3 separate regions of the Homo sapiens genome follow, and regions 2 and 3 are each linked to region 1. The links come from fine-mapping of genetic effects on gene expression. A gene starts in region 1. Each other region holds a variant in brackets. All regions are shown on one strand. Distances are between the middles of the regions. Region 1 holds the start of CRTC3 (CREB regulated transcription coactivator 3). Region 2 has its middle 4.6 kb from the start of ZNF774. Region 3 overlaps CRTC3 (CREB regulated transcription coactivator 3).

What was found. PIP is the estimated chance that this variant, and not a neighbour inherited with it, causes the effect.
Region 2: its variant is the best candidate, but not a certain one, in a credible set for the expression of CRTC3 in unexposed skin (GTEx, PIP 0.85).
Region 3: its variant is the best candidate, but not a certain one, in a credible set for the expression of CRTC3 in tibial nerve (GTEx, PIP 0.88).

What each region holds. Positions count from the first base shown.
Region 1 is chr15:90,527,445-90,531,683 of GRCh38, forward strand. CRTC3 (CREB regulated transcription coactivator 3) reads left to right here and starts at 2,479. Exons shown (of 15, transcript NM_022769.5): 1 at 2,479-2,759. The coding sequence starts at 2,628. RefSeq lists silencers at 1,933-1,982, 2,083-2,832, 2,853-3,032 and an enhancer at 3,423-3,582.
Region 2 is chr15:90,345,558-90,349,796 of GRCh38, forward strand. It overlaps the pseudogene GABARAPL3. Among named protein-coding and RNA genes, the nearest start is that of ZNF774, 4.6 kb to the right of the region's middle. The variant T/C (reference allele first, on the strand shown) is at 2,693.
Region 3 is chr15:90,579,458-90,583,696 of GRCh38, forward strand. The region is part of intron 2 of CRTC3 (CREB regulated transcription coactivator 3); the gene reads left to right. Among named protein-coding and RNA genes, the nearest start is that of CRTC3, 52 kb to the left of the region's middle. RefSeq lists an enhancer at 3,868-4,239. The variant C/T (reference allele first, on the strand shown) is at 2,145.

The sequences.
Region 1 (4,239 bases):
GCAGTGGCTTCTCATCATGATGATACCTGTATGGTTCAAGAGCTGGTAAGTGTAGAGACAGCTTTCCAATTTAGTAGATGGCTTCCTGATTTCAAAAGAGGCAGTGTCTCCTTTGGTGGCTCAGTATTGCAGCATAGCTCTCAAAGTCATTCCTCAAAGTTCAACCTGGAGTCGGTTGCTTCAGCCCTCCAAACAAGTCTGGAAGTCATTTTATACCCTGTAATATATTCTTTTGTACTTAAACCATCTAGAATGGTTCTGTTCTCTGAAACTTGACCCAAACAATGTAACAGAAAAGCAGAAATAAAATGTAAAGAAAAATGCTAGGCGCGGTGGCTCACGCCTGCAATCCCAGCATTTTGGGAAGCCGAGACAGGTGGATCACCTGTGATCAGCAGTTTGAGACCAGCCTGACCAACATGGTGAAACCTCGTCTCTACAAAAAATACAAAAAATTAGCCTGCGTGGTGGCGTGTACCTGTAATCCCAGCTACTCAGGAGGCTGAGGCAGGAGAATAGCTTGAACCCAGGAGGCAGAGATTGCAGTGAGCCGAGATTGCACCACTGCACTCCAGCCTGGGCGACAGAGCGCGACTCTGTCTTAAAAAAAAAAAAAAAAACTAGCCGGGCATGGTGGCGCAAGCCTGTAATCCCAGTTACTCGGGAGGCTGAGGCACAAGAATCACTTGAACTCAAGAGGCAGAGTTTGCAGTGAGCTGAGATCAGGCCACTGCACTCCAGCCTGGGTAACAGAGCAAGACTCCGTCTCAAAAACAAACCAACAACAAAAAAAAAGCATGGTAAATAACACAAAATACAACAGAAAAAAAAATCCAATTATAATTAATAAAAATAGCTAAATTCTAGCTAACAGAGATATATTTTCAGAATACATTTTCTAAAAAGTCCAGTTATAGGCTATGTCTGAGAGACAGGTGAAAAACATAATGGAATATTATCATATAAATGAATTGACACAAATATATCTCGAAAACATAATGGAGAATGAAAAAAGATGCAAAATGATTATTCAGTATGGTGTCATTTTTGTAAAGTTTAAAAACAAAATTAGGTATTCCATATAGCATTGCTGGATCTCTACATCATATGTAATAAAAGTATAAAAACACAAACTGGAATGATATGTACCAACTTGAGCACGGTGACTATCTGTGGGGCGGAAGAAGAAATGAGAGTGGGGCCGTCGTTATGACTAATTTTGTATGTCTTTAATAAATCCCAAGTACATGCAGCAAAATGTATTGATGTCTGTTTAATCTTGATAGTGGGGGGCGTGGGTAGTATTAATATTATTTTCCGTACTCTTCCGTAGGCCTCTAATATTTCCCTCTTTACAGAACACTGACACACGCTCAGGGCTCCCCGGGACATCTTTGTGCACATCAACATTTATGCTGAGAGTAGCTTCTGGACTCCAAAGAGGAAACTCCCCGGGCACTGTGGCCCACGCCTGTTATCCCAGCACTTTGGGAGGCTGAGGTGGGCAGATCGCTTGAGCCCAGGCGTTCGAGACCAGCCTGGGCAAAATAGCGAGACCCACCCCCGCCCCCCATTGCTACAAAAACATTTACAAACTAGCCGGGCGTGGTGACCCCCGCCTGTGGTCCCAGCTGGTCGGGAGGCTGAGGTGGGAGGATCTTTTGAGCCCGGGAGGTCAAGGCCGCGGTGAGTCGAGATCGCACCACTACACTCCAGACCGGGCGACAGAGAAAGACATCCATTCACTCCCCCAAAAGAAGGGGAAATTCGCTGAGGCTGAGCGCTGGTTTCCCAAGGTGGGGCTGGCACCTGCTGAAGCTGCCACAGGAGTGGAGAGGCCGTAGGGAGACTTGGAAAGAACCTGGAAAGGGGGCCGGGGCTATGGAGCCAAGGCTGCAGCAGGGCTGGATGGTGTTTGTAGTTTGTGCAGAATAGGAGGCAGTTTTTAAAGCCGAGATACAGCTCTGGTTGACTGGAGCGGGGAGGGGTGGGTGTGAGAGGTCAGGAAACCAGCGGCTGGAGGCCGGGGGCCTGGAGCGGCAGGGCTGGCGGGCAGACGTTAGGCCCCAGGCAAAATGGGCGCACCCCCTGCGGGGGCCCGAGGTGACCTGCTCGAGGTCCGGTCGCCCAGGTTCCACCTGGAGAAGAAAATCTTCGTAATTTGGCTGGGGGAGGGGGGATGCGGGCACAGGCTGTGTTCTCCACGTCGCGTAGACGCAGAGGCCATCCCTGGGTCGGAGAGTCTCCGTGGAGTGGCACCCCAGCGTTCCCCGTACGCCGGGGCCACTTTGTCGGGCTGACGGGGGTCCCTCCAGGTGGCCGCCGGCGGCGGGTCCCGAGCCAGACCGGGAAGCGGGGAGCAGCCCTCAGCCCGCGAGCGTGGGGCCGGGGCAGACTGGAGGCCGGGCGGGCCCCGCCGAGGGTGGGGCGGGGCCGGGCGCACGGGGGCGGACCTCGGCGCGCTCCCGGCCGCTCGCTGGCTCCGGGGCCGCGGCGGCTCCTCTGCCGGGTCGCGCCGGACGACTGGCTTCGGGCGGCGGCCCCGGCGGCCTGTGGACGGACGGGTGGGCCGAGGTACAGGCCCCACGGCCGCCGTCTCCCGCTTCTGCCCGCGCAGAGTCCGCGCCATGGCCGCCTCGCCGGGCTCGGGCAGCGCCAACCCGCGGAAGTTCAGTGAGAAGATCGCGCTGCACACGCAGAGACAGGCCGAGGAGACGCGGGCCTTCGAGCAGCTCATGACCGACCTCACCCTGTCGCGGGTGAGGGCCCGGGCCGGCGCGGGCGGGGGCGGCCACGGCCGCGGGCGGGACCCGCGCGGCGGGTGAGAGGTTGCGGGGCCAAGGCGATGGCGGGGCCGGGCGGGGGCCGCGCCCGGGAACCGGCGGCTGGGAGGGGGACCGGAGCGGCCGCGGCCTCGGCGTTTCCCCGCCTGGCGACACCCGCTAGCCGTTCGCGATCCCGGGCTGAGGTGGGAGGGTCGCCCGGCCCCGTGTGCGGGAAGATGGGCAGGGGTGAAGCCCGTGGAGGCGGGCGGCCGTGCGAGGGCGGCCTGAGGGGGAGGAGGACGAGGAGCCCCGAGAGGAAATCGCAAACAGCTCGGAGGCCGGCCGGGTGGCGCGGCGCGGCTTCTGGTCGCTCCGAACATCCCCCACCATCGAGCCCTGCTGTTCTGCCGGCGTGGAAGGCCGCGGGCACCCCAGGGTCCCACGCGCTCGTGGGGGGAGCTCTGTGCACAAGTCCATCCAGGGCCCGGCCCTGGGGTGGCTCGGGTTGTTGGAACCACGACGGGATTCCGTGTCGAGTGTGAGGCTCTGCTCCTTTTACTCCTTGGAGGTGCTTTATCGGGTCCAGTTTACTTTGTTCGGCCCGGGATATTTAGTGAGAACTGACAAGCGTCGCTGGTGACTGGAGAGGGACCTGGAGGAATGAGTAAGGCGCGAGCCGGGACAAACACCTGGAGAGGTTAGGTAACCGCTGAGTGAGGCAGTGGAGGATGGAGAGCCAACCGGAGTGTCCGCGCAGGGTTGCAGAGAAGGGGGGTCAGCAGGAGTGGGGCTGGCCTTGAGGATCCTGAATGCTGACCTTGGAGGACCATCGGGAGGATGGGGGAGGATCTGCAGATTCTGGGGGACTGAGGCGGGGGAGACAGTTTGAAGGAGAGCTGAGAGCAGAGTTGCAAACCAGCTGAGTTGCAGACACATTATTTTTTGGCCAGCGCAGTGTTTGGGAAAAATTATTGAATCTGTTGCCAGAATTTTTAAATTGGAAGACTTCCACACAAAATCCAAATTTCCGTATTATTTATTTATTATTATTTATATATGTTAAAAATTGGGAGACCTGGTAACACTAATTCTGAATTCCTACATGACAGCTACCGACCTGCTGGAGCTGGGTGATGATGAAAGGGAGCTGAGCTGAGCTCCCTTTCAAATGGAGTAAGAACTCTAGTTTGCCACCGTCCACTCTCTGTCACAGTCCCCCAAGGGGAGATTAGGTGACAGTTGCCATTTATACTCATGATGGTGTTTTCTTTCAGTGAAGTTAAGGAAAAAGTGAAATATTTCCTGTACTTACATTTCTGTTCACATTGAGAAAAAATATATATATAGAGAGAAAGAAGCTGAAGATTTCAAGAAAATGTTTTCTTATACCCTATCAGCTTCACTCATTTTTTACCTGCCTGGCATCCACTGGCATTTACATCTGTGACCTTGGTTAGATTCAGAGATGAACTCG
Region 2 (4,239 bases), 180 kb before region 1:
CTCACCCAGGGTGGATGGTAGCATCCACTCAGCTGAGGGCCCAGATAGTGCAAAAGGGCAGAGGAAAGGCGAATTTTCTCTCTCTCTCTTCTGAGCTGGGACACCCTTCTCCTGATGTTAGACATCAGAACTCCAGGTTCTTCAGCCTTCAGACTTCAGGACTTGCACCAGCAGCCCCTCAAGTTCTTGGGCCTTTGAACTTAAACTGACTCACACTACTGGCTTCCCTGGTTCTCTATATCTATATATCCTATTGATTCTTTCTCTCTGGAGAACCCAGACTAATACACTCACTGTGATCCTTGCCTCCAAGTATTCATACCTTTGTGTAGTCCCCTCCCACACTGTACCAGGGTTGGTCTGTGTGACCAAAGGAGTATGGCAGAAATGATGGTCTATCACTTCCAAGGTTAGATTGCAGCTTCTGCTTCTTTCTCTCAATCACTCACCCTGGGGAAGCCAGCTGACACGTTGTGAGGAGAAGCTACACGTGAGGAAACAGTCACATGAGGGAGCTTGGGAGCAAGCTGATCATCCAGCCCCAGTCAATCCTACAGATAACTGTAGTCCCAGCCAGTGTCTAGACTGCAACCTTGTGAGAGACCTTCAATTAGAGATACTCACCTAGGCTGTTCCAGATTCCTAATCAACAGAAATAAAATAATTTTTTTTGAGACAGGGTTTCACTCTGTCTTCCAGGCCAGAGTGCAGTGGTGCCATCCTGGCTCACTGCAGCCTCAATCTCCCCAGGCTCAAGTGATCCTCTTACCTCAGCTTCCCAGGTAGCTGAGACTACACGTACGCATCACCAAACCCAGCTGATTTTTTTATTTTTAGTAGAGACGAGGCCTTGCCATGTTGCCCAGGCTGGTCTTGAACTCCTGGGCTCAAGCAATCCTCCTGCCTCAGCTTCCCAAAGTGCTGGGATTACAGGCATAAGCCACTGCACCTGGCAAATGTTTTGTTTTGTTTTTTAAGGTAAGCAATTATTTCATTTCCTTGGTGAAGGGGTGGCCTGCCCCTCCACACCTGTGGGTATTTCTAGTCGGGTGGGACAAGAGACTGAGAAAACAAATAAGACACAGAGACAAAGTATAGAGAAACAACAGTGGGCCCAGGGGACCGGCACTCAACACACCAAGGACCTGCACTGGCACCGGCCTCTGAGTTCCCTCAGTTTTTATTGATTATTATTTTCATTATTTCAGCAAAAAGGAATGTAGTAGGAGAGCAGGGTGATAATAAGGAGAAGGTCAGCAAAAAACATGTGAGCAAAGGAATCTATGTCATAATTAAGTTCAAGGGAATGTACTATGACTGGACGTGCACGTAAGCCAGATTTATGTTTCTCTCCACCCAAACATCTCAGCGGAGTAAAGAATAACAAGGCAGCATTACTGCAAACATATCTCGCCTCCCACCATAGGGCGGTTTTTCTCCTATCTCAGAATTGAACAAATGTACAATCGGGTTTTATACCGAGACATTCAGTTCCCAGGGGCAGACAGGAGACAGTGGCCTTCCTCTATCTCAACTGCAAGAGGCTTTCCTCTTTTACTAATCCACCTCAGCACAGACCCTTTACGGGTGTCGGGCTGGGGGACAGTCAGGTCTTTCTCATCCCACGAGGCCATATTTCAGACTATCACACGGGGAGAAAACTTGGACAATACCCCGCTTTCAAGGGCAGAGGTCCCTGCAGCTTTCCACAGTACATTGTGCCCATGGCTTATTGAGACTAGAGAATGGCGATGACTTTCACCAAGTATACTGCTTGTAAACATTTTGTTAACAAGGCACGTCCTGCACAGCCCTGGATCACTTAAACCTTGATTTTATACAACACATGTTTTTGTGAGCTCCAAGTTGGGTCACAGTGGTTGGGTCAAAGTGGCTGGGGCAAAGCTACAAATTAACAACATCTCAGCAAAGCAATTGTTTAAAGTACAGGTCTTTTTCAAAATGGAGTCTCTTATGTCTTTCCTTTCTACATAGACACAGTAACAGTCTGATCTCTCTTTTCCCTTCACTTGGCCTGACAGCATTGACTTCATTACACAAGAACTTGCAGCTGACAGAACTGACACACAGATTTCCCCCAAGAGGAAGAACCCTTTTCATTTGCAGAGATGAATTGAAATGTCATGTCTGAGTGCAATTCCTGCTCCCCACTCCCACCCCACAAAATCCTATAAGTGATAATAAATCAATAAAATCCCCATGATTTACTAAAAGTCATCCCTGCAAACCTTTCTAACTAGCAGCTGCAGTGGATAACCAAGAAGGGAAGCAGCTGGCCATCACATAGCATTCCTGTGAGTGTGAGAATGAAGGGACAGCAGCATGGGAGCGAGAATCCTGAATGAGTGAGAGGTATAGATAATCTACCTCACTTCATACCTGCCCCTTCCCTACATAAGACATCTCTGTCCTGATACATGGAAAATACTAGAGGAGATGGTAGAAGTGGTTTTAGTCTGCAATTGGAAATGCCTGAAGCTTATTAAATTCCAAGGTAGGGGTGAGATGAGGAGCACCAGAGAGAAAGAGCAGGTTAGACAGAGATGCTCAACTCACTCTGTCAATTCCAGTTTAATGCTATTTAACAACAAAATTATCTTCTTAATCATAACCACCCTCATGCCTAACCCCTATTTTCCAAAGATAAGAGATCCCTGTCTAAATTTCTGGG[T/C]TGGTGTCTACTGCCGCCCCTGGGGTGGTACTGTGATGTTTGTGAGTGAGATTGCAACTGGGATGGGAGAAAAGAAGTGTGGGATACGGAAGATCGGGGGCCACGATGCATCAATTACAGTGGGTCTCTTTTCGTCCCCAGGTATGGCCCACTACCACAAGTCCCCTTTCCCTACCTGTCTTGTGCAACTGTCAAAAACAGAATCTCTGCCCAAAGAGAAGGGAGCACAGGGAGTTGCTGCTGGACTGCCATCATCTCTGACCCCAACTTGTCCACCTCCTGACCGACCTTTCTATGAAACTGCACAAAAATTAAATCTCAGGAATGCCATAAAATTACATCATCCCCATTCCTCTATCAAAGCCAATCCAACAGCTCTGTCCTGACATGCTTTCTCCCTGGGCCAAGGAAGCAACAAAAAATATCAGTTGAGCATGTGAAAATGCGTTGACGGTGTGTGCGGTGTAAAGTTTCTATATGTCTTCACCTTCTGTCTCCTCACGGTGGGAGCCGCCCTCTCTTTCCCCAAGTCACACACACACCCCTCCCCTACCCCTAAGTCCAGGTGCTTCCATCTGCTGGGCTTCCAACCACTCATTTCCCATAGACACTCTCATTACTGTAGGCCACATACAGAAAATCATCTTCCTCATGACTGTCCTCATATAGTTGGCCCATGGTAGCACTAGTGGGAGGGATAGTGTTGTTGACAAAGAAGAATAAGGCGTCCTCAGGTCTCAGGTGGATTCTCTTCCGGATTAAAAGGTAGAACTGGCCATCGGTAAGGTCGGAGGGCACTAGGTACTTCCTCCTGTCCAGATCAGGCACCCTTGCTTTTGGAGCCTTCTCTACAATCAAGGGGACCCTGTCCGGATATTTCTTCCGGATCTTTTCTCCTTCCTTTTTCCGATACTCAAAGGGATGGACCTCCTTGTACTGGAACTTCATGGTGAATCACAGGGCTTCCGTGATCCCCGCGCAGGGCCTGCCTCCTTCGCCGCTGACCGCTGGCCACGTCCCGCTCCCTCCGCCGACGTGTGCTTAGAATAGCTGCAGAAATGTCCGCTTCCGGGTCAACAGCACTGGTCCAAGTGTGCGGGAGGGCAGAAGGTGGGGTGGGAGGGGGACCTCGGGTGCGCCTGCCTGGAGGTAGAGGAGAGCCAGGTGGAGAAATACCGGCGGCTTTTCCAAACAGCTGGGAGCACAAAAACCAAATATTTGGTTTTTTAAACCAATAAATTTTGGGGTAATTTGTTACACAGCAATAGATAATGATAGACTCTCTCTTTAAAAAAATCAGTTCTGGCAGGGTGCGATGGCTCACGCCTGTAGTTCCAGCACTATGGGAGGCCAAGGCGGGTGGATCACCTGAGGTCAGGAGTTCGAGACCAGCCTGGCCAACATGGTGACACCCCCGTCTCTACTAAAGATACAAAAAATTAGCCGGGCGTGGTGGTGCACGCCTGTAATCCTAGCTACTTGGGAGGCTGAGGCAGGAGAATCGCTTGAAGCCAGGAGGCAGAGGTTGCAGTGAGCTGTGATGGTGC
Region 3 (4,239 bases), 52 kb after region 1:
AGGCTGGTTTATAGGGAAGGAAAGAGGAAATGGGGTAGTAATTATTGTGTCATAGGCAAAAGCCTCACACTGGCTGTCCCCTTCCCCTGGGAAAAAATTCTTTAGCATTTCTCTGTAAATTTCATTGTGATTTTAGAGCATGTGTCTGAATGATTACATGGAGTAAACGTATTTCACTTTTTTTTTTTTTTTTTTTTTTTTTGAGACAGAGCCTTGTTCTGTTACCCAGGCTGGAGTGCAATGGCACAATCTTGGCTCACTGCAACCTCTGCCTCCTGGGTTTAAGCAATTCTCCTACATCAGCCTCCCCAGTAGCTGGGAGCACAGGCACCCGCCACCATGCCCAGCTAATTTTTGTATTTTCAGTAGAGACAGGGTTTTACCATGTTTGCCAGGCTGGTCTTGAACTCCTGACCTCAGGTGATCCACCCGCCTCGGCCTCCCAAAGTGCTGGGATTACAGGCATGAGCCACCTGCCCAGACACGTATTTTACTTTTAATCTCTAGTTTTATATTACATGCTGATTGCACATCCCCACTCAGGAACATCAGAAGAAATACAAAAAGAGGAAATATTTCAAAACTTTGAAATCCCACAAAAATAATCACATTCACTAATAAATATTTCTCCTTATTTATTTTTTAGGGTACCAGGTAAGGAGACTCTCCAGTTTAGTTAGGACTATGCCTAATCTGAGTTCCCATAAATCCTCAAATGAACTATATATGTTATTCTTCTGGAGACTGAGGAAGCTGGTTAATCACTGTTCCCTTGTCTGGGTTCTCAAAGGTTCAGCACTGAAGCCGGGAGCCAGGAGAGGATAGCATTATGACCTTTACTCCTCAGTAACTCCTAAGGCTCACAGAGTGGTTAGTTTTCCCTCCCCTGTCTGTAGGCAAAAGTGGGGACTTGCAGATAGGAAGAATAGGCTTCCTTAGTGTCAGTCCCGCTGGTTTTTCTTCTTCTTCTTTTTTTTTTTTTTCCTGAGACGAGTCTTGCTCGCTCTGTCACCCAGACTGGAGTGCAGTGGCGTGATCTTGGCTCACTGCACCTCTGCCTCCTGGGTTCAAGCGATTCTCCTGCCTTAGATTCCAGAGTAGTTGGGATTACAGGCACGTGCATGACCACACCCAGCTAATTTTTATATTTTTAGTAGAGATGGGGTTCGTCATCTGGCCAGGCTGGTCTCAAACTCCTGACCCCAGGTGATCCACCCGTCTCAGCCTCCCAAAGTGCTGTGATTATAGGCGTGAGCCACTGCACCCGGCCCACTGGTTTTTCTGTTTGTTTGACAAAAGGAATGCCAGACCAACTCAGTCTCCAAACAAGCGCCCAGATCCAGTTATGGCTTTAACTGAGATTAAATGGAGAATCTGGTTTCAGGGACCAGTTCTTCCATTTTTGGTAGCTTGGTTCGTTATGGAGACTAAAGTTCTTACCATGATGAATTAAAAAAAAAAATTTATTTTTGTATTTTTCTGCTGTTTAAACCATGATGAATTTTTAGCAACCTCTCATCTGGGCAGATTCTCCCAAGAGATAGTGAATGCTTAGGAACACTTTACAGCTCAGCCTAAGGGAGAACATATCAGAAGCATGGCTGGATGAGAAAGGAGTGGCCTGCCTGGGAAAGTACTCCGTTCCCATCTTCAGAGGGGTCTGGTGGCGGCTAGATGGCCTTTGGTGAGGATGCTGTCTGGTTGCATTGGCTGGCCCGGAAGATCATTCCAAACTCTGTGGCTTATGAGTCCAGACAGAACAGGACAAGGACACTGTGTGTGTCTTTTCATGAGCTAGTGGCCAGATGAGGAAAAGTACCCTATGCTCTTTTAAATAAAAAACAGGATGTAAGTTTTTTTAAAAATTCAATATGCTTTATTTAGAATTACCATGTGCTTTATCTAACTAAATATTCCAGAGCATTTTATTCTTTCCAGACATGTTTTCTCTTATACTTTCCTAGTTCCTTTGTGACATCGTATGCTTATTTTGTCCTTTAAAGTTATCAACAGTGTGAAAAAAAGTTGTTTTGTTGGCTGGCTGTATGGTAGAAAACACAGCCTTCATCTCTTTTTTTGGCATATATGTAGAAGTTATTGAGTTAAAACTGAAAAGGCACCTTTAATTTATGACAGTATCATAA[C/T]TTTAATTAAAAAATCAAACTTGTTATTTGGAAATGTAAAATCTTCCCCAAAGTAGAATAAAGAACCCCCATAGACTCATCACCAGATTCAATATTTTTCAACATTTTGCCACTCTTGTTTCATCTGTCCCCTCCCCTTTGTTTTTTCTCTTTTAATTCCAAATTACAATCTCTTCTAAACTCAGTGAAGTGTCCTACCAAGTTGAATCACAGCGGTGGATCTGGTGTGATTCAGAATGCAGTGGGGGTGAAAGGAGGGAGTCGGCAGGCTGACAGGTGCCTGTCTTTTACATATATTTCCTACGGCAGGAAGAGGTTGGTGTGGGATGAACAGAGGCTCAGGCACTTTGTCTCCTTTCCTGCTTGGCCTGAAGTGCCTACCTGACCCTTGTGGCCTCCAAGGGTGCCTTTGGCCAGTTGCCTTACCAGCCACTAGGCCGGACTCCTGCCACTGCTCAAGTCTTAGTTGATCAAAAGCCAGTTCTTCCCTTCTGCAGTTCCTTTCTATCACCATAAGAAGCAAATCAGCTTCCTCTGGAGGAGATAAATGGGCAAACCTGATTTACCCAGAACATATTTCTCTAGTCATTGTCTTATTAGCATTAAAGTTAAAAGGAGAACTACACTCAACGGAAGGCCTCCCTCACCACCCAAAGATATCACACCAGGTGGGGAGGTGGGGATGGGAACAGGCAGTTTAAAACTTCTACTTCTGTGGAGGCTTGGGTGGCGCTCTGTGGAAAGACAGTAAAGTGCCTTTAGAGGCTTGGGTCTGCATTCACCCTGCTATGCCATCCCTGAGAACTTGAAGCTGAAATTCTTCATTTTATCGTGGAAATTTGTAGCTGTACAGAAAAGTAGGAGTAGAATAAGAAGCTCCCATATAGCCCTCACCAGTTTTTAATAACGATCAACACTTTGCATTTAAACTTTTTGATTATGCAGCCTAGTAGTAAAAAGAGTTTTATATCCCCAATTTGGGTATGTTCTTTGTTTTTTAAATTATGTACATATAACACTGTATTGTTAATATTAAGTATACAAAAAAATAGAAAGCTAAGTGGAAACAGAACTTCTAATGTTTTCCCCATACCCTATGCCATCCTGTAAATCCCCTGGGGGTACACATTCCTCTTTGGAGCCAAATCATTTAGAAACATTATGTAATTCAGCAAACACGTGTTGGAGCCCACTGTGTGGCTGACGCTGTGCAAATGCTGGAGGGAAGATGCTGGGGGAGGTCTCACTGCTTACAGCCTGCTCCATCAGGGTCAGGGAATGAACATGATCCATCTTCTCCAGGTGAGAAGCTCTGCCTGAGACATAGACCTTATTCTCTGCCTTTTCTTGAGCAGGATCCCCCAGCATGAACTCTGGGCGTGTTTTATGCATTGTCGTTATTTCTTCTTCTTTTTTTTTAGAGATGGGGTCTCATTATGTTGCCCAGGCTGGCCTCCTATTCTTGAGCTCAAGCGATCCTCCCACCTCGGCCTCCCAAAGTGCTGGGATTACACGTGTGAGCCACCACCACACCCAGCCATTATTTCTTATTTTGAGAAATTATTTTGCCTGGCCCTCTGTGATCATTTTGATTGGTCTGATTTTGACTTTACCTGCTAAAAACAAAACAACCCCAAAACTGTTTTATCTCTATCATTTTCTGGAGTCACCTTTTAACTTAGTTTATCTGTTAACTTTACTTCCCTTTTATCTTTCATTTAAAAATACAGACTAGGAAGGGGCAACACAAGGGCCACAGACATGGTGATAGGCCAGGTCCTAAATCAGCAGGTTGGGTGCTGGTGCCTTCTCTGGTCTGTTCTGCTCTTCATCTCTTCTTTTCATGCCTCACAGCAAGACTTATTTGGTCCTTTGGAGAAGATTGGATCCCCAGATCAGCTGGTCAAAAAAGGCATAGCCTCCAGGTTAAAAACAAACAAAAAACCCATCTAGGTGGTTCAAGGGCTCTGAAAGTCTAATCACTTCTGCGAGACTGGAATAGACTAGCCCCAAAGATAGTGTAGTGCTGGCAGGCTGCTGGGGGAAAAGCCTTCCAAAACCCAGAACAGCTGGGAGCCTCACAGGAGTTTTGTGA